Homo sapiens: one gene and its partners. The protein of the gene in region 1 purifies or fractionates together with the protein of each later gene. This does not show direct contact. Each region holds a gene or a part of one and is shown in the gene's direction. Other genes may lie near its edges.

Region 1 (4,597 bases):
CCCAGCCTCACAATTTATATACTTGGCTTTGTGTGCTTTTGCCAGTTCTTTTGCTTTTCTCACAGTCCCACAGTATTTTTTCCCTGAGAATTTGGAAGAAGGGCCACAGTCCCTCTGCTACAGGGCCCCATAACACCGGGCGCATTTGTGCTAAGAACTAATCATTGCTGCCTACAAAAATACTTCCTCACCCTCTTGCACAAAAGTATTCTTGCCTTGAGAACCAGTGAATGTTAATCCATGAAGAGTCCCTATGCTTTGTGCTTCTGTTTCCCTGCGGAAATAAGGCAGATCTAGCTGGGTGGGGACTCAGATGAGGCAAGTAAGACATTCACTCTGGAGGCAAAATGTAAGGGGGTAGCACAAAACTCAGCAACCAGCCAGGAACAGTGGCACACACCTTTAATCCCAGCTATTCAAGGGGCTGAGGCAGGAGGATTGCTTGAGCCCAAGAGTTTGAGACCAGCATGGGCAACATAGATAGCCATCTCAAAAAAAAAAAAAAAATACAAACAAACAAAAAACCTCACTAACGAAGATGAATGATATTTTAATGCAATTTTGTTTCTTCTCCAGGAGACAGAGTCTCATTCTGTCACCCAGGCTTAATTACAGTATGAGTCACCCTGAGAGCCCTGCACAGTGGCTTATGTTCCCCATTTCCAGAGAAGGCAACTGGGACTTGGAAAGGTTACAGAATTCCCCAAAGGCACTGGGTTAGCCCGGGGGGCGAATGAGGATTCAAATCTGGTTCAGTGCTACCTCTTTAGCTACACTTTGCTGGCCACACATAATACGTATTATGTGGGCTAAATTTCACATCTGTACGATGGTTTCAGCACATTTTTAAATTGGGGGGGGGGTACATCCTTTTAAGTATCTTTTTTCACTTTTTCTAATTTTAAACATCTTTTTTAAGACCTCTTAATGTCACACAAACGAGAAATGCCAAATGGCTAATTAAAAACAACAACGTTCAGAGAAAAGCAGGCATCTGCCAACAAACAGGTCATCGTTCCCCACAGTTATAGGGAGCCCGATCAGAGCAGTCCATGCCCTACTGTCACCTCCCTCCCCTCTGCTTGGCCGTGGCAGGGAATTGAAAGACAGGGGAGGAGGAATGAAGGAACAGGAAGGGCATGGAACAGCTTCATTAGAGACTAAAACAGTGTCAAATGTCACCACCTTAAAGTTCTTTTTTTTTTTTTTTAAAGACCTGGTCTCACTCTGTTAATTTTATTTTATTTTAAAATTTTTTTGGTAGGGTCAAGTTCTCACTATGGTGCCCAGGCTGGTTCACAAACTCCTGGGTTCAAGCAATACTCCCACCTCAGCCTTCTGAGTAACCGGGACTATAGGCATGCACCGCCGCACCCAGCGGCTCATTTTGGGCTATTTTTGTTGTAGAGACAATGTATTTAGTCCTGCCTCACACGGCTAATAAAGACATATCTGAGACTGGGTAATTTATAAAGGAAAGAGGTTTAACTGACTCATAGCTCAGCGTGGCTGGGGAGGCCTCAGGAAACTTATAATCATGGCAGAAGGGAAAGGAAACACATCCTTGTTCACGCAGCGGTAGCAGGGAGAAGTGCCGAGCAAAAGTGGGGGAAAGACCCTTATAAAACCATCAGATCTTGTGAGAACTTACTCACTATCATGAAAACAGCATGGAGGTGACCACCCTCATGATTCAATTACCTCCCACCAGGTCCCTCGCACGACAAATGGGGATTATAAGAACTATAATTCAAGATGAGATTTGGGTAGGGACACAGCCAAACCTTATCAGATGGGGTTTCACCATGTTGCCCAGGCTGGTCTCAAACTCCTGGGCTCAAGTGATCCTCCTTCCTTGGCCTCCCGAAGTGTTGGGATTACAAGCATGAGCCACCATGCCTGGCCTGATTGTTTTTCATGTAGATTGCATTAACACGTTTTTTATCTTGATGGCTGAGGTTTTGGGTGCTGCCTTAAGTTGTGCACATGAGGCGACTGCCTCACTCCCCCTTACCCTTGTCCCAGCCCCGTTCTTGGGAAACTGGAGTGCAGGGAGGCCCTGCTCTTTCAAACCTAGCCACAGAGCTCCTTTGCTTCTCCCCAGGTCTCCCTGCAGTACAGCTCCAATGGCAAGTGGTACCACACCTGCGGAGGGTCCCTGATAGCCAACAGCTGGGTCCTGACGGCTGCCCACTGCATCAGGTAACTGCCTTTCCCTGGGCGCTTGGCCTGCTCACCAGCTGGTGCTCATTTCTGAGCTGGGGGCTCAAATGGCCTGAACCATGCTACATAAAGCAGCCTTGCAAATAACCACTATACTGGCTGAGACACAAGCTGTAGTCAATCAATGGTTCAGTGTGTTGGCCCATCAATGTCAGTACATGGCATGGATGGAGTGTCTGTGCCAGGCAGGCACTGAGGGAGGATGAAGAGGAGGGGAAGGCCCAATCTCTGCCCTCTTGGGGAAACTACATGTGGCCTCTGGATCTGGAATTGGGTTCCCTTGAACAACTTAACTGACTTCTCAAAGCTTCAATACCATCACCTGCAGAAAAATGGAGTAACAGAATTTAGTGTGAATTCAATGAGTTGATTTACCAAAGGGCCTGGCACTTAGTAAGTGCTCAGTGAAAGCTAATTCTGAATTATAGATGAATTATAAAGGCCCACAAGGTTCTGCAACGTTGTTCACTTATCCTCTTCTTTGTCCGTGACCTCTGCTCATCACAGCTGGAACTCACCGGAGTTTCTGCCGGGTCGGCGTGACTCCCTACCAGGAGTGATCCCTTCTCCCATCCGATTTATAATAAGCTCTAGGAGGTATTGGGGAAAATAATAGAGGCCTACAGTCAGGAGTCCTGGCTTGTAGTTCTGGTTTCTCACTAACGGTGGGACTCTGGGCCAGGTTACGCCTCTCTGGGCCTCAGTTTCCCCATCTGCAAATGAAAGGTGGGAAAAATGTCCTTGAGGGCAAATGACTCCTGTTTTCTCTGTGTTCATCTCATTCCCTCCATAAGAACTATAGAGTTTGTGTTATTATAACTTTTATTTTATATTGTAGTTTATAGTTAGTATAGTAACAATTATTATATGATCATAGTTCTTAGGTTATATACTTTAGGCCCTATTATAACTAACTGATTGTCCCAGGGGAGGAAAGATCCCCAAGTCCCATCTAGTGGCTCACGCAGCAGCCAGTTACTTGGGTCTATCCCCAGCATTATCCAAAGCCAGGCCTCTGGAGGTGACCCTCTCCCTGGGCCCCCTTTCTCCCAGCTCCTCCAGGACCTACCGCGTGGGGCTGGGCCGGCACAACCTCTACGTTGCGGAGTCCGGCTCGCTGGCAGTCAGTGTCTCTAAGATTGTGGTGCACAAGGACTGGAACTCCAACCAAATCTCCAAAGGGTTCGTTTCTGTCTGGGTGCACTTGGGGGTGAGGTTGTCAGGGAACAGATGGGGGTCTCACAGAGGCAAGGGTCTCAACCACACCACACCCCCTCTGCTTCTTCTACAGGGAGGGGGAAGGAGCTCTGGCCTCTTAGATGTGGAACCAGCTCCAAAGATGTCTGGGGTGGGGATGTGACCTGGGGAGGGTGAAGCAAAGACTGCCAGAGCGACCTGGGTTTGCTGCCAGTTACACCTGCAGGGCCCCTGTCCGCTGAGCATGTATCTACTTCATGCCAGGTCCTGGGGACACAGGGACAGTGCTGTCAACCCTGTGACTGTCCCTGGAGTAGGACACAATCTCTCCTGCCTTCCCCCTTTCAACAAGGCCCTCTGCATTTTCAAACATGCCCTGGGGCCCTGCCAGTCAGAGCAACCTGGGGTAACAGGGTACAGGGAAGATGACAAGGTCTCCAAGCCCTCCAAAGCCCACAGGGCAGGAAAAGTCAACCCGGTCCTCATGCTTCGCCTCCACACTCACCCAGGAACGACATTGCCCTGCTCAAACTGGCTAACCCCGTCTCCCTCACCGACAAGATCCAGCTGGCCTGCCTCCCTCCTGCCGGCACCATTCTACCCAACAACTACCCCTGCTACGTCACGGGCTGGGGAAGGCTGCAGAGTAAGTGGGAGCCAGGAGCCCCCAGGCCTGGGAGGGAAGGGAGGTGATTCACGTCACCCCTGTCTGGCCGGGGCCTCTCACCTGTCATCCCAGGGTGTGTGGCTGCCTTGGAGAGACGGGATGGCATAGGCTGACGCCTGCCTGGGATCAAATGTCAGCTCTCCCACTTAATGACTGTGACACCTTGGACACATTACTAGGTCTCTCCATGCAGCACTTTTTTCATCTGTAAAATGCAAATATTTGGCTGGGCGCAGTGGCTCATACCTGTAATCCCAGCACTTTGGGAGGCCCATCCCGCGGATCACTTGAGGTCAGGAGACCAGCCTGACCAACACGGAGAAACTCTGTCTCTACTAAAAATATTAAAAAAAAAAAAAATAGCAGGATGTGGCAGTGTGCACCTGTAGTCCCAGCTACTCAGGAGGCTGAGGCACGAGAATCACTTGAACCTGGGAGATGGAGGTTGCAGTGAGCCAAGATTTCGCTACTGCACTCCAGCCTGGGGGACAGAGCGAGACTCCGCCTCAA
Region 2 (4,597 bases), on another chromosome or scaffold:
ATTTTTAAAGGAAAATGGAAGTGAGATCAGCCAAGCCGATTGTGAAGATCAGTAATTGTTTACTACTATATGTCCCCACTAGACTAGGAGCTCCTCAAGGAGGGCCACTTTGTCATTCTTTCATGTCCCCAGTGCTAGCACAGGGCCAGGCAGGAAGGTGCTCAGGACATGTTTGCTGTGTGAGCAGTCTTGTTGGTTTTCCTGGCTCAGATTGCAACATGCAGGGTATTCAAGCTGCCTTGAGGTTTGGGTGCATCTGTGTCCTTCAGCCAGCTGCCCCGTAATTGAGAGTCAGCAGTAGAGAACAGTCTTTGCTGCATATCCTGCTGTTCTGTGGCAACTGGGACTGCCAGATTGCCATCTAGTATATTTCTGAGTGAACCCAAAGCAGGAGTGAGTGACTCCCTTTGATAATGTCACTTTATGATTCTTCAGGTCCTGAGTAAATCTTTGTCCTGTCTTCAGCACTTACGTCAGGTATTTCACTGTTTGCTGGCATTACCAACAGAAGGGAAACGGTTCTGTCTGCCACTTGTTACTTTAATAAAAGGTTTCTCAGCCTCAGCACTGTTGACTTTGGGATGGGTAGTCCTTGTTGTGGAGACTGTCCTGTGCACTGTAGGATTTTGTTTTTAATTTTGAGACAGGGTCTCACTCTGTTGCCTCAGCTGGAGTGCAGTGGTGCGATCATAGCTCACTACAGCCTCAAAGTGCTGAGCTGAAGCCTTTCTCCTGTTTCAGCCTCCTGAGTAGCTGGGACTATAGGTAGGCACCACCATGCCTGGCTAACTTTTTTGTTCTGTAGAAATGAGGTCTCACTATGTTGCCCAGGCTGGTATTGAACTCCTGACCTCAAGTGATCCTCCCACCTCGGCTTTTCAGAGTGCTGGGATTACAGGTATGAGCCACCGCACCTGGTTACTGTAGGACGTTTAGCAGTATCCATGGCCTCTATCCACTAGATACCAATATCAGCCCCTCAGTCACAACAACCAAAAATGTCTCTAGATGTCATAAATGTCCCCTGGAGGGCAAAATTGTCCCGTTGAGACCCTCTGGCATGGAAAGATGAGAAAGAGAATAAAGATGTAAAATATCCTCTGCAAGAAAAACTCTTAGCTGAGTGTGGTGGCTCACGCCTGTAATCCCACCACTGTGGGAGGCTGAGGTGGGAGGCTCAGGTGAGTCTCAGTAACATAGTGAGACCTTCTCTCTACAAAAAATGAAAACAAAATTAGCCAGGCATAGTGATGCATGCCTGTAGTCCCAAGCTACTTGGGAGGCTGAGGTGGGCAAATTGCTCGAGCCGGGGACTTGGGGGCCGTCATGGAGGCCAACATTGCGCCACTGCCCTCCAGCCTGGCCAAAAAGTGAGACCCTGTCTCAAAAAAAAAAAAACTTTTTATGAAAATCATCTTACCTCCAGTCAGGTACATGAGAGCAAGCCGTGTTAGGTAGCATTGTTTCCTGTGACTGAGTGCCAAAGGAGTGAGTGCTGGGGCCTCACCCTGGCCTGCAGTGCAGAGAAAGGCTCTGAGAAGAGCTGTGGCTCTAGTGTATCAGACCCAACCATGGAGGTGGAGGAAAAAATGCTGTGACACATGTGGCCCTGGTGTAGCTGGAAGAACCCTTGTTGATGGCCCAGAGCCAGGGGCCATCCTGGATGGGTCAGCTGGCATGAGACTCTGAAGAGCCATGTTTGCCCAAAAAGCGCTTCAGTCTGTAGATATAGCTGAGTTATTGAAGGCAAAATATTGGCTTTCAGGAAACTTGCCGTGGCAGTGTATAGTTGGGCTAGAGAGGAGAGACTGAGGCAGGAAGATAGTGTAGAGGTTGTTATTCCCAGCGATCTCCTTTCTAGAAAACTCTTATCTGGTAGTCCGAACTAGAGTGAGTGGTTCAGGAGGGTTGGGAGTGGGGCATGGTGGCTCATGCCTATAATTCCAGCACTTTGGGAGGCCTAGGTGGGAGGATCACTTGAGACCATGAGTTTGAGATCAGCCTGGGCAACGTAACAAGACCCCATCCCTGTAATTTAAAAAAAAAAAAAAGAAGATGTAATCCCAGCTACCCAGGAGGCTGAGTCAGGAGAATCACTTGAACCCGGGAGGCGGAGGTTGCAGTGAGCCAAGATCGCACCATTGCACTCCAGCCTGGGTGACGAGCGAAACTCCATCTCAGAAATAAAAAAGAAGAAGAAAATTTTAAAAGAGGGGTGGGAGCAGATTGCACTTTTATTTTAATTAATTATTTTATTTATTTTTGAGACAGGGTCTCACTCTATTGCCCAAGCTGGAGTGTAGTGGCGCAATCATGGCTCATCGCACCCTTGACCTCCCCAGGCTCAGGTGATCCTCCCACCTCAGCCTCCTGAGAATCTGGGCCTACAGGTGTGCACCACCACACTCAGCTAATTTTTCTGTTTTTTTGTGTGTGTGTGTGTGGAGACGAGGCCCTTATGTTGCCCAGGCTGGTAGCAAATTCCTGGGCTCAAGTGATCCAACTGCCTGAGCCTCCCAAAGTGCTGGGATTACAGGCATGAACCACCACACCGTGCTGGGCCTCAGATTACAGTTTTAATCATGTGAGGCTTGCTGTCTTTGTTCCTTTTTTTGAGACAGAGTCCCAGTCTGGAGTTCAGTGGTCGATCTCAGCTTACCGCAACCTTCCCATCCCGGGTTCAAGTGATTCTCGTGCCTCAGCCTCCCAAGTAGCTGAGATTACAGCCATGCACCACCATGCCTGGCTAATTTTTATATTTTTTAGTAAAAACAGTTTCACCATGTTGGCCAGGCTGGTCTCAAACTCCTGGCCTCGAGTGATCCGCCTGCCTCCGACTCCCAAAGTACTGGAATTACAGACATGAGCCACCGCACCTGGCCTGTCTTTTTTTTGTTTTTTTTTGTTTTTTTTGTTTTAAGCAAAGTCTCCCTCTGTAGCCCAGGCTGGAGTGTAGTGGCACCATCTCGGCTCACTGCAACCTCCACCTCCTGGGTTCAAGCTATTCTCCTGCCTCAGCCTCCCAAGTAGCTGGGATTACAGGCATGTACCATTGCACCTGGCTAATTTTTTGTATTTTTAGTAGAGACAGGATTTCACCATGTTGGCCAGGCTGGTTTTGAGCTCCCAACCTCAGGTAATCCGCCCGCGTCGGCCTCCTAAAGTGTTAGGATTACAGGCATGAGCCACCGAGCCCGGCTGTCTTTGTTCTTAACAGAATGGTGAGAACAAGGGCCCTTAGACATTTGTGACTTGTCACTTGTGGAGTGTCTGGGGGACACAGGAGGCAGATCTTGCTAGTTGGGACCAAGGAAAAGCCTCATAGACCTCAGCAGCAGGTCAGGGACTTGGCCTCCATAGCTAATATGAAAGGTAAGCAGTAGATATCACAGGAGTCACTGGAAATAGCCTGAGTTAGCCTGGACAACATAGTGAGACCCTGTCTCTACAAAAAAAACATTTTTTTTTAATTAGCTGAGTGTGGTGGCATGCGCCTGTGGTCTCAGCTACTTTGGAGGCTGAGGTGGGAGGATCACTTGAGCTTGGAAGGTCAAGGCTACAGTGAGCTGAGTTCATGCCATTGCACTACAACCTGGGCAACAGAGTGAGACCTTGTCTCAAAAAACAAAAGAAAGAAGGAAAGGGAAAGGGAAATGCAAGGAAGAAAGAAAGAAAGAAACGAAAGAAAATAGCCTGAGTTTGAAAGGCCCGGAGACACCCAGGTGGGCTGTGAGAGGGGCCAGCAGCTTTGACACAGCAGGCTGTGCCCACAGAGGAAGCAGACAGCTCTGAGGGATGCAGCACACAGCAGGCCGCCCCGAATGACCGCAGCTGCAGGTGATAAAATGGCTGTCCAGTGGGAGACAGGGACGGGCCATAACTGCTGCTTTGTGCTGTATCTCTTGCTTGTTAACATGTTTGGGTGAATTGACTGCAACAGATGGGCCTTTCAGCCCTCAGCACCTTGGTTTCTAGGCAAGACCGGGGTGACTTGCACCTTGGCGACCCCCTCCCCTCCCTGAGCAGCAGAGCAACCTGCGCATAAAGAAGCCTGAGAAGATTGGAGTGGGACGAGGCGCAGTGCCCTGTGGGGGTGGAAAGAGCTCTGGACTGGCAGTGCAAAGCCAGGGCTAACATCCCTTCGTTCTCCTGATCTTGAGCACATCCTCCCCACTCTGGTGGCCACAGTTTCCTTATCTATTGAATGAGAGGGTTCAATTAGTGTCATCTTGGAAGTTTCTATTGTCTGTATTGTGTGTCCATGATTGTGTCTATCGAGCTACCCTTGATGAACAAAAAATAAAAGAAGAAAAGCCCCTTTAGCAGTTTTCTATCAAAGTAATTGTATGAAACATCACCAGGAATCTCCGAGACCAAATGCTTCTCTCCTGTCCTTGCTGTGTAATATATTTCCTCTTTTGCTGACTGAAGCCAAATTCAACTAAGCAAGTTGCCCTCGATTGTCCCCCACCACCCTATTCCCGCCAGAATATTTCTCTAGAAAAGACTGGTTAGGTTTAGAACTCTGATGCCCCTTTGGGCTCACCTGTTGCCGTGTGTGTGTGTGTGTGTGTGTGTGTGTGTGTGTGTGTGTGTG
Region 3 (4,597 bases), on another chromosome or scaffold:
AGCTCTACGAACTCGACGGGGACCCCAAGAGGAAGGAATTCCTGGATGACTTGTTCAGCTTCATGCAGAAGCGAGGTGAGCCCTCTGCCCCCACCCCGCTGGAGGGAGGTCACAGAAACAGGGCTGTAGGAGGGGCCCTACTGGCTCCAGGTATGTCGGGGCGGTGGTGAGCACCCCGTGGCTGGAGGCATCCAAGGCTCCTAAATCGGGAGGGACTTCAGGGGTGTCTTGGGGGGAAACACATCCTGCCATGGAGGTTTGACGCGGGAGGCACGCCTGTGAGTCTAAGGGGTAGGTCCCTTGGTGGGGGGCAGGGCAGTCTCAGGGCCCCAACCCAGAACAGACAGTCCAGGTCATCTCCTTAGCATCCAGGGTGCAGTGAAGTGGGGGTCCCCACTACTGGGTAATGGGGGAGTGGAACCAGCCTCTGTGTTTAGGGAGTGGGGTCAGATTCGGGCTGGCCAGGTGGGTGCAGGTGCGGCAGGACAGAAGCCCCCCGCCCGGCCGCGAGATGGCTTAGAGTCTAATGATCTCATGGCGGCCAATGCGACATTTGAGTCCTGGCCCCTCCCCTCTTCCCACCAGGGCCTCAGTTTCCCCATCTGTAAAAACGGGCCACAAACAGTCCCTGCCCAAAACTCAGTGGCCAGCAGGTACCCCAGATGTGCTGAGTGCAGGGCCGCTGTTTACTGTGCACACTTATTGGGCACCAACGGTATACCAGGCTCTGTGCCCCCAAAGTCTCCTGGCCTAGAGAGGGCAGGTCTGGGCTGGTGTCCAGGTGGGGAAACTGAGGTCCAGACACAAGACAGACTCAGACGACCAAGGGTAGCCGGGGTGTCCCAGCGGCCATTCCCAGGCCCCACCCCAGCTTAGAGTGACCACGGGGCAGAGAGAGTGCGGCAAGGGCTTCCGTCTCGCCTCCAAGTCCTCGTCGGCCGGAGAGGGTCCTAGGAGCGTCTGCTGCCAGGTAGGAGCCGCCCCAACCCCCCTGGACACTCCTCTAGGGCAGGGAGCTAGCTCCGATCCCCACTGTTCAGACGGGGGAGGAGGCCTTGGGGCCCACAGAGGTCGGAAGGGGTGGGGCAGAGGGCTCTGTCCCTGCACTTGGGGCCGTCACAGGGGCCCGCTGTGTCCCAGCCTCCGCCCACCCCTCCCCTGGCTTCTATAAACACAGGCCCCAGACCCGCCACTGCCAGCCGCCCGGAAGGGAAGGAGGAGGAGGGTTGTGGGCCCCCTGGCCCACACTGCCCAGCGGCCTCCGAGTTAACCCCTCCCGTGCTGGGAACAGAGGATCCAGACCCGGGACCTGGGCGGGGGCCCCTCCTGTGTTATCCTCCAAGGCCAGGCTTGACCAGGGCCCACTGCCCCCTGTGAGGCTGGACAGATCCTCCCCATGACCCTTTATCATCCTGTTCGCACCTGCTCAGCCCTGACCACTCTGCTGTGGGGCTCCGAGCTCCTGGGTCCAAAGCCAACCCGTTTTGCTGTTACCCGTGCCTGGTACAGTGCCTGGTGTCCTGGGGGTACTTAGAAAGCACGGTGAGGGCTGGGCATGGTGGCTCACACCTGTAATCCCAGCACTTTGGGAGGCCGAGGCAGGTGGATCACTTGAGGTCAGGAGTTCAAGACCAGCCTGGCCAACATGGTGAAACCCCGTCTCTACTAAAAGTACAAAAATTGACCAGGCGTGGTGGCAGGCGCCTGTAATCCCAGCTACTTGGGAGGCTGAGGCAGGAGAATTGCTTGAATCCAGGAGGCAGAGGTTGCAGTGAGCCGAGATTGCAGCACTGCACTCTAGCCTGGGTGACAGAGGGAGCCCCCGTCTCAAACAAACAAAAAGCAGGCATGGTAGGCTGCTCATGAGTGTGGGTGAGATGGGGGCCCGTGGCACGTGGGGCCGTGAGGGTTGGTGTCCAGCTTTACCTCCCTCTCCAAGCTGGGAATTCCTACAGGACAGGAGACAGCGAGCTCCTATGCGTCCCTCAAAACCCAGCCTCAAAGCTCCCTCTTCCTTGGCTTCCTCCAGGAGCTTCCTGCTCTGTAATGGGGGCCCTTGGAGCTGAGAATCCGTCAGGTGAACCTGCCCATCACCCTAGACTTCACAATCTTCCTCTCCTTCACTCCAGACAGAGAGAAATAATTTTTTTTTTCCCCTGTGTCACAAAGTAAAAAACTCTAACTAAATTTCTCAGAATTCTCTGGGGGCTAGAAGTGAGGGAGGGGTCCTGACCACACCCTCTCCCCTCAGCAGCAGCAGCTGGACCACCTGACCTGCTGTTCCCTGACAACCTCCCCACCCTTCCTTATCTGGGCCCCACGACGGGCCCTGGTGATGCTCCCAGCTCCTTCTGTAAACATCCTCCTCCCGCCCACTGCAGAGCCAGGGCGTGGCCCTGGGAACCAACCCTCTGCTGCTGATCCTTTTTTTTTTTTTTTTTTGAGACAGAGTTTTGCTTTTGTTGCTGAGGCTGGAGTGCAATGGCGGGGTCTCGGCTCTCTGCAACCTCCACCTCCCAGGTTCAAGTGATTCCCCTGCCTCAGCCTCCTGAGTAGCTGGGATTACAGGCGCCCGCCACCACGCCCGGCTAATTTTTGTATTTTTAGTAGAGACAGGGTTTCTCCCTATTGGCCAGGCTGGTCTCGAACTCCTGACCTTGGGTGATCCGCCCGCCTCAGCCTCCCAAAGTGCTGGAATGACAGGCTTGAGCCACCGCGCCCGGCCTGATGCCGTTACTTTTACTTTGCAAACTCTGAGGCCTAAACTGGTGTCCCGAGTGGGGCCGGGCGGAGGCTCTGGGCAGGTTTCCGGGCCGATCCTGCAGCTGAAACCCGGCGCGGCTCCTCTCGCCCAGGCTGTAAAGTGGGTTTCAGGTGGGATCGGGTCTGAGGCCCGTCTTCCTCCAACCTGGGATCTCCTCCATTCACTGGGGGTTTTGCAACCTGGGAAGGGCCTGGAAGTGGCGGAGGGTGGTGGGAGGTGTTTCTGGAAGGTCAGACACCGGGGGTTCCGGGGGTAGCAGGCCTCGACCAGGCAGAGGGCCGGCTGCTCACTCAGGGCTGCACCCGCTCTCCAGCCAGTCACATCCCAGAACCTCGATGTCCACGTCCCCATCCCTAACAGGGCGATGGGCGTCCCCTCCCACCCCATGGTGAGTGGGCAGCAGCTATGGCCTGGGCCACCTGCCCTCACTGGTCTTCACTGAGCGCCTACTGTATGCCACTGAGTGCTGGGACCCCACGTAGGCAGAACATGGGGTGGGGGCCACAGACTGTACACAATTGATCTCCTAAGTGCAGAATTTCACGGACAGAACGATAGGTTTAAGTGGGTCTTGCCTACTGTCAGGCCAGGGAGGGGCTGGGCAGAGGTGGAGCTGACATCTGAAGCCAGAGGCTCCTGGTGCAGGGGCAGCCTGGGAGAGCCCTGGAGGGGGCAGGTAGGGCTGGAAGGGCGGGGAGGGGCCACGTCTGCAGCCGGCTCCAGGAGTTGAGGGGCAGGAACCTGAGTCAGCCCAGCCGCCTCTTCTTCCTGGGCCAGCCCACCTACCGCCCTTCCCCTGCCTAGGCTAATCCTCCCCCTTTCCCTCCCTGGCATAGCGTAGCCCACAACCCTCTCCTCCTGGGCTAGCCCAACCCCCCATGTCGGGGCTAGCCCATCCCCTTCCCCTCCCTAGGCCAGTCCACAGCCCTCCATTCTCCAGACTTGAAATTGGGTAAGCCAGGCTTTACCCCTTGCCTGCCTGAGGCTGCAGAGCCCCTGTCAGTGTGGAGGGAACAGGCCTCTGGGAACATAGGCAGAGTTGTTTTGGCAGCTGCCGTGGTGTGTGGCGTGGAGAAGGAATAACAAAGATCCGGGCGTCTCCCGCACGTCCCTCCTCTCAGTAACCCTCCTCCCGAGGGCTGCGCTGTCCCTAAGCCCAGGTTACTGGTGGATAAACCGAGGCAGAGCTGCCCCCTCTGCACCCTCTCGAGCAGAGGTTCCCAGCCTGGATGATCCTGCACCCACAGAGGGCCCTGGGCAATGTCTGGAGACATCTGTGGTTGTCACAGCCTGGGCGGGGGAGTGCTCCTGGCATGGAGAGGGCGGAGGCCAGGACACTCGGCTCCCTGCAGTGCCCAGGTGGCCCCCAACCTCCCTCTCGCCCCTTCCCCCAGGGACACCTGTGAACCGCATCCCCATCATGGCCAAACAGGTCCTTGACCTGTTCATGCTGTACGTGCTGGTGACGGAGAAGGGCGGCCTCGTGGAGGTCATCAACAAGAAGCTGTGGCGTGAGATCACCAAGGGCCTCAACCTGCCCACGTCCATCACCAGTGCAGCCTTCACCCTGCGGACCCAGTGAGTGGCGGACGGTTGTGCCGAGGTCGGGCCAGGGCACTCTGAGCAGCCAGTGCAAGGGGCCTGCAGAAGAGGGAGGGGGTGGTGGGCAGCTGCAGAGGAGGGGGCAGTGGGCAGCCGCAAAGGGCACAGGGCCACACCGTGCGTCCAGGGCCCGAGAGCGTCAAGTAGGGGTGCGAGGACCACACAGTCTCTGGGGTTGTGCAATCAGGGGCCATTGCGAGGAACAGCATTGAGATGGAGGGAATGGGCAAA
Region 4 (5,321 bases), on another chromosome or scaffold:
TCTGGGTTGGGTTCCTGATCTGGGTGCCGATTTCACAAGTGTGATTGGCTTGTGAAAATTTACTATGCTGTCTACTTAAGACATGTGTTAAATAAAATTTATAGCAAGTTGGGCATTAGGCCCAACAGAACAAACCAAAATGGAGTTTATTGATGTTGCCATGCCAAAATTAAAATCTTTATCTGACCATTCAATAAACCAGGAGAGAGAGAAATAATAGCCAAGTCTGCAAACAGTCCATTTTTAGCCAGCATGATAAAGAAGTCCTCTCTGCTTTAACCTTATAAGAAAAGAAACTTTGAAACAAACAATCCACTTTTAGTTTTCTGTTTCTCTCTTTTTTTTCTTTTTTGAGATGGAGTCTCGCTCTGTCACCCAGGCTGGAGTGCAGTGGCACGATCTCAGCTCACTCCAACCTCTGCCTCCTGGGTTCAAGTGATTCTCCTGCCTCAGCCTCCTGAGTAGCTGAGATTACAGGTGAGCACCACCACGCCTGGATACTTTTTGTATTTTTAGTAGGCATGGGGTTTCACCATGTTGACCAGGCTGGTCTTGATCTCCTGACCTGGTGATCTGCCTGCCTCAGCCTCCCAAAAGTGTTGGGATTACAGGAGTGAGCCCCCGCGCCCTGCCTCTGCGTTTCTTTTCTGTCTATGAAATTATCCCGATTGTTCTGCTCATTGGAACACTGTTTCTGCTTTATAGAATGAGACGTTGCCCAATTCTAGAATAGCAGGTAAAAGTTAATTAAGATCTTTAAACTAAATTTGTTGTAATTTTGTCTTTTGACATGTAATTTTCTGTATATTCGTTATACTTCAATAAAAAGTTAAAAGAAACATAACTAAATTTCTATTTGAAAACAGAAGCTCTTCCTTTTGAAGGATGCCTTGCTGCTCCACTTTCCATTCACATTCACCTCCTGAGAGAGGTGAAGATCTGGGTTGCTAAGATGGAAGAAAGGTCAATTATTTGCATGTTACTCAAGTGATGCACTGACACAATATTCTCACAGTTCTCCCTCCCCCCGCCCCCCCCCACACACCCAAAAGAATTCAGTGTATTAGCTTTGCTTTTTAGTGATTCACTCAAGCTAAAGTAAGAGTTTATGTCTGGTATTACGTTGAGAGCTTTTGGAAGATTATCTTCCAGGTTGTCTTTAGACCATCTTTGTATCTGGTTTTTGCTCTCTTTGCTTTTGCTCTGAGATTCTGCAACACCGATTTATATGTGTTGAGACAGTCTAAAAAATTCCATTTCTCCCCTTCTACAATTCCTGCAGATGTTACTCACTATATGTCTGCAGGAATTGGTGTAATCTTACACTCTGCCTTGAAAACACCTTTCCATTCTTCACAGCTTTGTTCCCAGTTGAATTTCTGGGGAGAATTGAGTTAGGTCTATTCATTTAATTTGGGAGAAACTGACATCTTTACAATTTTTCCTCTTTTCACCCAGGATCATGGTAAGCCTCTCCATTATTTGAAGTCTAATTTCATCCTACTTGGATATGCTTCTTTATGACTCTGTAGCTTTCTACATATAAGTCCTACATCTTTCTTGTTAGAGTTTTTCCTAGTTGCTTTATGTTTTTTTGTTGTTGTTGCGATTGTTGCTATTGTGAATGGAACCTTTTTTTTTTTTCATTCAAAAATGAACCCGTGGAGCGATAGGATCTCTACCACCTCTTTCGGCTGTGAGACTCTATGGTTTTTCAGTTCTATGAGAACATTCTACTGGAGCCTACATTATCTGAACCCAAAGGAAGATGGCAACCACGAGTCGCCAAGTAAAGGACCGCTCTATCTCGCCTTTGTTCTCCTCTCGGTGGTTACTGCGCAGACGTAGTCGCCCAAGTCGCGTCCCCGCCTTCCCGGTCGCGGGCCCAGCTCGGGAGCGCCGGCGCACTGGCGCGCTCCGTTTACACGCTCCGGGGCCTGTAGGCGCCGCGAGTTCCGGCTGTCGCCGTCGCCGCCGCGGCTCCTGGAGGTCGGTTGCGACGAGTAACGGCGCCAGGACGAGCCCTGCGCCTTCTTTTTCGATATGTACCCGAATTGGGGCCGGTATGGCGGGAGCAGCCACTATCCGCCGCCACCGGTCCCACCGCCGCCGCCAGTGGCGCTTCCTGAGGCCTCGCCGGGGCCCGGGTACTCGAGCTCGACGACTCCCGCGGCCCCCTCCTCCTCGGGCTTCATGAGCTTCCGCGAACAGCACTTGGCGCAGCTCCAGCAGCTGCAGCAGATGCACCAGAAGCAAATGCAGTGCGTGCTTCAGCCCCACCACCTTCCTCCGCCCCCTCTGCCGCCCCCGCCAGTGATGCCGGGGGGCGGCTACGGAGACTGGCAGCCGCCACCGCCACCGATGCCCCCGCCACCCGGGCCGGCCCTCAGCTATCAGAAGCAGCAGCAGTACAAACACCAGATGCTCCACCACCAACGAGACGGGCCTCCTGGTTTGGTTCCAATGGAGCTGGAATCCCCCCCTGAATCTCCCCCTGTGCCGCCTGGGTCCTATATGCCCCCATCTCAGTCTTACATGCCCCCACCTCAGCCGCCACCCTCTTACTACCCCCCGACCTCATCTCAGCCCTACCTGCCTCCTGCTCAGCCGTCCCCTTCGCAGTCCCCACCTTCCCAATCCTACCTGGCGCCCACCCCTTCTTACTCATCCTCCTCCTCTTCCTCGCAATCCTATTTGAGCCATTCCCAGTCCTACTTGCCCTCTTCTCAGGCATCTCCTTCCCGCCCCTCCCAGGGCCATTCTAAATCCCAACTACTAGCTCCACCACCACCGTCCGCCCCCCCTGGAAATAAGACAACTGTCCAGCAAGAGCCTTTGGAGAGTGGGGCCAAAAACAAGAGTACTGAACAGCAGCAAGCCGCCCCTGAGCCAGATCCCTCTACGATGACTCCACAGGTAAGAAAGCATCTGCCTGAACCTCATCTTTCACCTAGAGGGCCCTGAATGAGCAGGCCTCAGGGCTTTAACCAGTGGTTAGTCTAATTCCAACACACAATGACTAGCTAACACTCCAAAGGATTCCGTAAGAGTCAGAGGGCTGACAGCTCAGCTTTTTAATTAGCTAGATGTGAATTACCAAAAAAACAGCGTTTGTAGATGTGTATGGATTACATACAGTGGTGGGGTGGCTCAAAAGTTACCTCTCAGATACATTCCTTGGTTTCTTTGACCATCCTCTTAGATTTTGTTGCTGTTGCAAATAGATTTTGTTGCAGAGGGTCTTGTTTTAAAATTGTATTTTAAACGAAAGTTTCCATTTGAGAGAAAGCATGAAAAAGAGGCCTCGCCAAGGGCTGACACTTGAATGTTTGTAAACTTTATGATTAGTTAGCTTCTTTTAAAAATATTACTTAGGGGCCAGGGATAGTTGTCAGCTTCCTGAATTAAGAGGTTTCAGAAAAAGGATGGAAATCTTGTCTTACCAGGAGCATCCTAATTATGCTTATAGGTACATATACAATACATAGATGAGTCCCGAGACCCTTTTGGGGATCGATTGGTCCATTTTAGGAATTGACCCAGACATCCTTTTCTCATATTATTTAAAGATTGTTTTAAGATAATGAGCAATTTTCTGCGTTTCATTGTCATTACCATTCACTCCAAAGAAACAGCCTTGCAATTTGGCCAACGTAAAAAAAGTTTGGTGATATCTTTTCATGAGAGAGTCAGCCATTCTTATCCCGCAGAACAGACAAATTGACAGGGTAACAGTAATAAACGAGTTCCCCCTTGAGAGAGGGAAGGTCAAACTAAAGCAGAATAAATCAATTGTTATGATTTCCTAAAGTAGACACTTTTTCAGCGATTACTAATTTACCTTAGATTCACTAAGGAAAAAAGAGAATCTTGTAATATAAACGCTCAGATTTACCTATAAAAGATTTCCAAAAGATAGGGATGCAGTATTATAATTTTACGGTGGTTTGGCATTAGAAATTAAGAACAGAAGCAAGTTGTTTTAAGAAATGATGCTTGGCACATCTTCTGGAGAAAACACTTGGGATGCTGAAATAAAGTAGTAGAATAATGATTCTGTTGGCTTACATCAAATTTGTACCATCTCACCAGTTTATTTTCCCCAGATTGCTCTATTATAGAGACAGACTTTCTGTCCTCTTTCCCACCCCACTCTGAAGTCTTTAGTGCTTTTGTTGTCAAACATTCTCAGTTAGTCTGAGCCAAAATAGGACATTTATATTCTCACTCTACTAGACTGTTTTTCTGACCTTACAGAGAGACAAAATAATTGTATTTTTGGCTTTTTTTGGGAGGAGTGTGTGTGTCAGATCAGGCCTTAATATGTATAGTTACCATGAACAGTGCTTTTACTTTTCTGCCTTTGTACCCTTTTCTGTAATGAACTCAGTGTCTTGAATATTCAGTGCCTGCAATTCTTTGGTGAGAGGCAGAGTGGTGGAAAATGAGACTTGTGGTGCACATAGACCAGATCAAGAAGAGCCTTGAAGCCTGTGGCTTTCTTTCTTCTTTTTAGAATTCATCCTAACCTCCTCAACCCTCTGTTTCCCCTTAGAGTTGTATTGCTTTCAAGGCATATCTCAAATATCAAGGTTTCCATGAAGCCCTGCTTGTGCTCACCCATCTGGTTTGGTTCTGTTCTTCAGATTGTAAGTCCCTTGCAGACAGGAATTATCTTACTTATCTTCTTATTACCGTAGCACCTAGGACAGTGCCTTGCAAATTGTAGGCTCTCCACAGATTTGTTGAATAAAATACGAGAGTTGTCATGTTCTAGACTTAGGATATGTTGGTTTATTAGATGATAAATATTTCTTCATGCCAGTACCAGTCTCTGGCAATCCTTCTACATATTTATTATTCTTTGATTCATATTTTGTTTTTGGAATGTGTCATTCAAAATTTCTTATCGTGAAATATTTTTAAAATACACAAAATAGAGAAAAAAGTATGATTCCCCATACATACCCATCATTGAGATTCAACAGCTATCAAGATTTTGCCATGTTTACTTCACCTAGGCCTTTTTTATTATTGTTGCATATATATATATTGAGACAGGGTCTTGCTCTGTCAGTCACCCAGGGTGGAGTGTAGTGGCATAGTCTCAGTTCACTGCAACCTCTGCCTCCCAGGCTCAAGCCATCCCAAGTAGCTGGGACTACAGGTGCATGCCACCATGCCTGGCTATTTTTTTTTTTTTTTTTTTTTGGTAGAGACGGGGTTTTGCTATGTTGCCCAGGCTGGTCTTGAACTCCTGAGCTCAAACAGTACACTGCCTTGACCTCTCAAAGTGCTGGGATTATGGGCATGAACCACCA

What was found. The genes of interacting proteins can lie anywhere in the genome.
Region 2: the proteins of CELA2A (region 1) and ARID3B purify together in Homo sapiens (affinity purification with mass spectrometry; one large-scale study listed by BioGRID and IntAct). This does not show direct contact.
Region 3: the proteins of CELA2A (region 1) and ARID3A purify together in Homo sapiens (affinity purification with mass spectrometry; one large-scale study listed by BioGRID and IntAct). This does not show direct contact.
Region 4: the proteins of CELA2A (region 1) and YLPM1 purify together in Homo sapiens (affinity purification with mass spectrometry; one large-scale study listed by BioGRID and IntAct). This does not show direct contact.

The regions. Positions count from the first base shown.
Region 1 is NC_000001.11:15,459,457-15,464,053, forward strand, and holds part of CELA2A (chymotrypsin-like elastase family member 2A preproprotein), read left to right. Parts: intron 1-2,104; coding exon 2,105-2,202; intron 2,203-3,276; coding exon 3,277-3,405; intron 3,406-3,929; coding exon 3,930-4,066; exon of another isoform or gene 4,067-4,292; intron 4,293-4,597. UniProt on the Homo sapiens protein: Elastase that enhances insulin signaling and might have a physiologic role in cellular glucose metabolism. Circulates in plasma and reduces platelet hyperactivation, triggers both insulin secretion and degradation, and increases insulin sensitivity.
Region 2 is NC_000015.10:74,575,275-74,579,871, forward strand, and holds part of ARID3B (AT-rich interactive domain-containing protein 3B), read left to right. Parts: intron 1-4,597. UniProt on the Homo sapiens protein: Transcription factor which may be involved in neuroblastoma growth and malignant transformation. Favors nuclear targeting of ARID3A.
Region 3 is NC_000019.10:960,090-964,686, forward strand, and holds part of ARID3A (AT-rich interactive domain-containing protein 3A), read left to right. Parts: intron 1-2; coding exon 3-75; intron 76-4,158; coding exon 4,159-4,342; intron 4,343-4,597. UniProt on the Homo sapiens protein: Transcription factor which may be involved in the control of cell cycle progression by the RB1/E2F1 pathway and in B-cell differentiation.
Region 4 is NC_000014.9:74,761,447-74,766,767, forward strand, and holds the start of YLPM1 (YLP motif-containing protein 1), read left to right. Parts: upstream 1-1,869; 5' UTR 1,870-2,043; coding exon 2,044-2,916; intron 2,917-5,321. UniProt on the Homo sapiens protein: Plays a role in the reduction of telomerase activity during differentiation of embryonic stem cells by binding to the core promoter of TERT and controlling its down-regulation.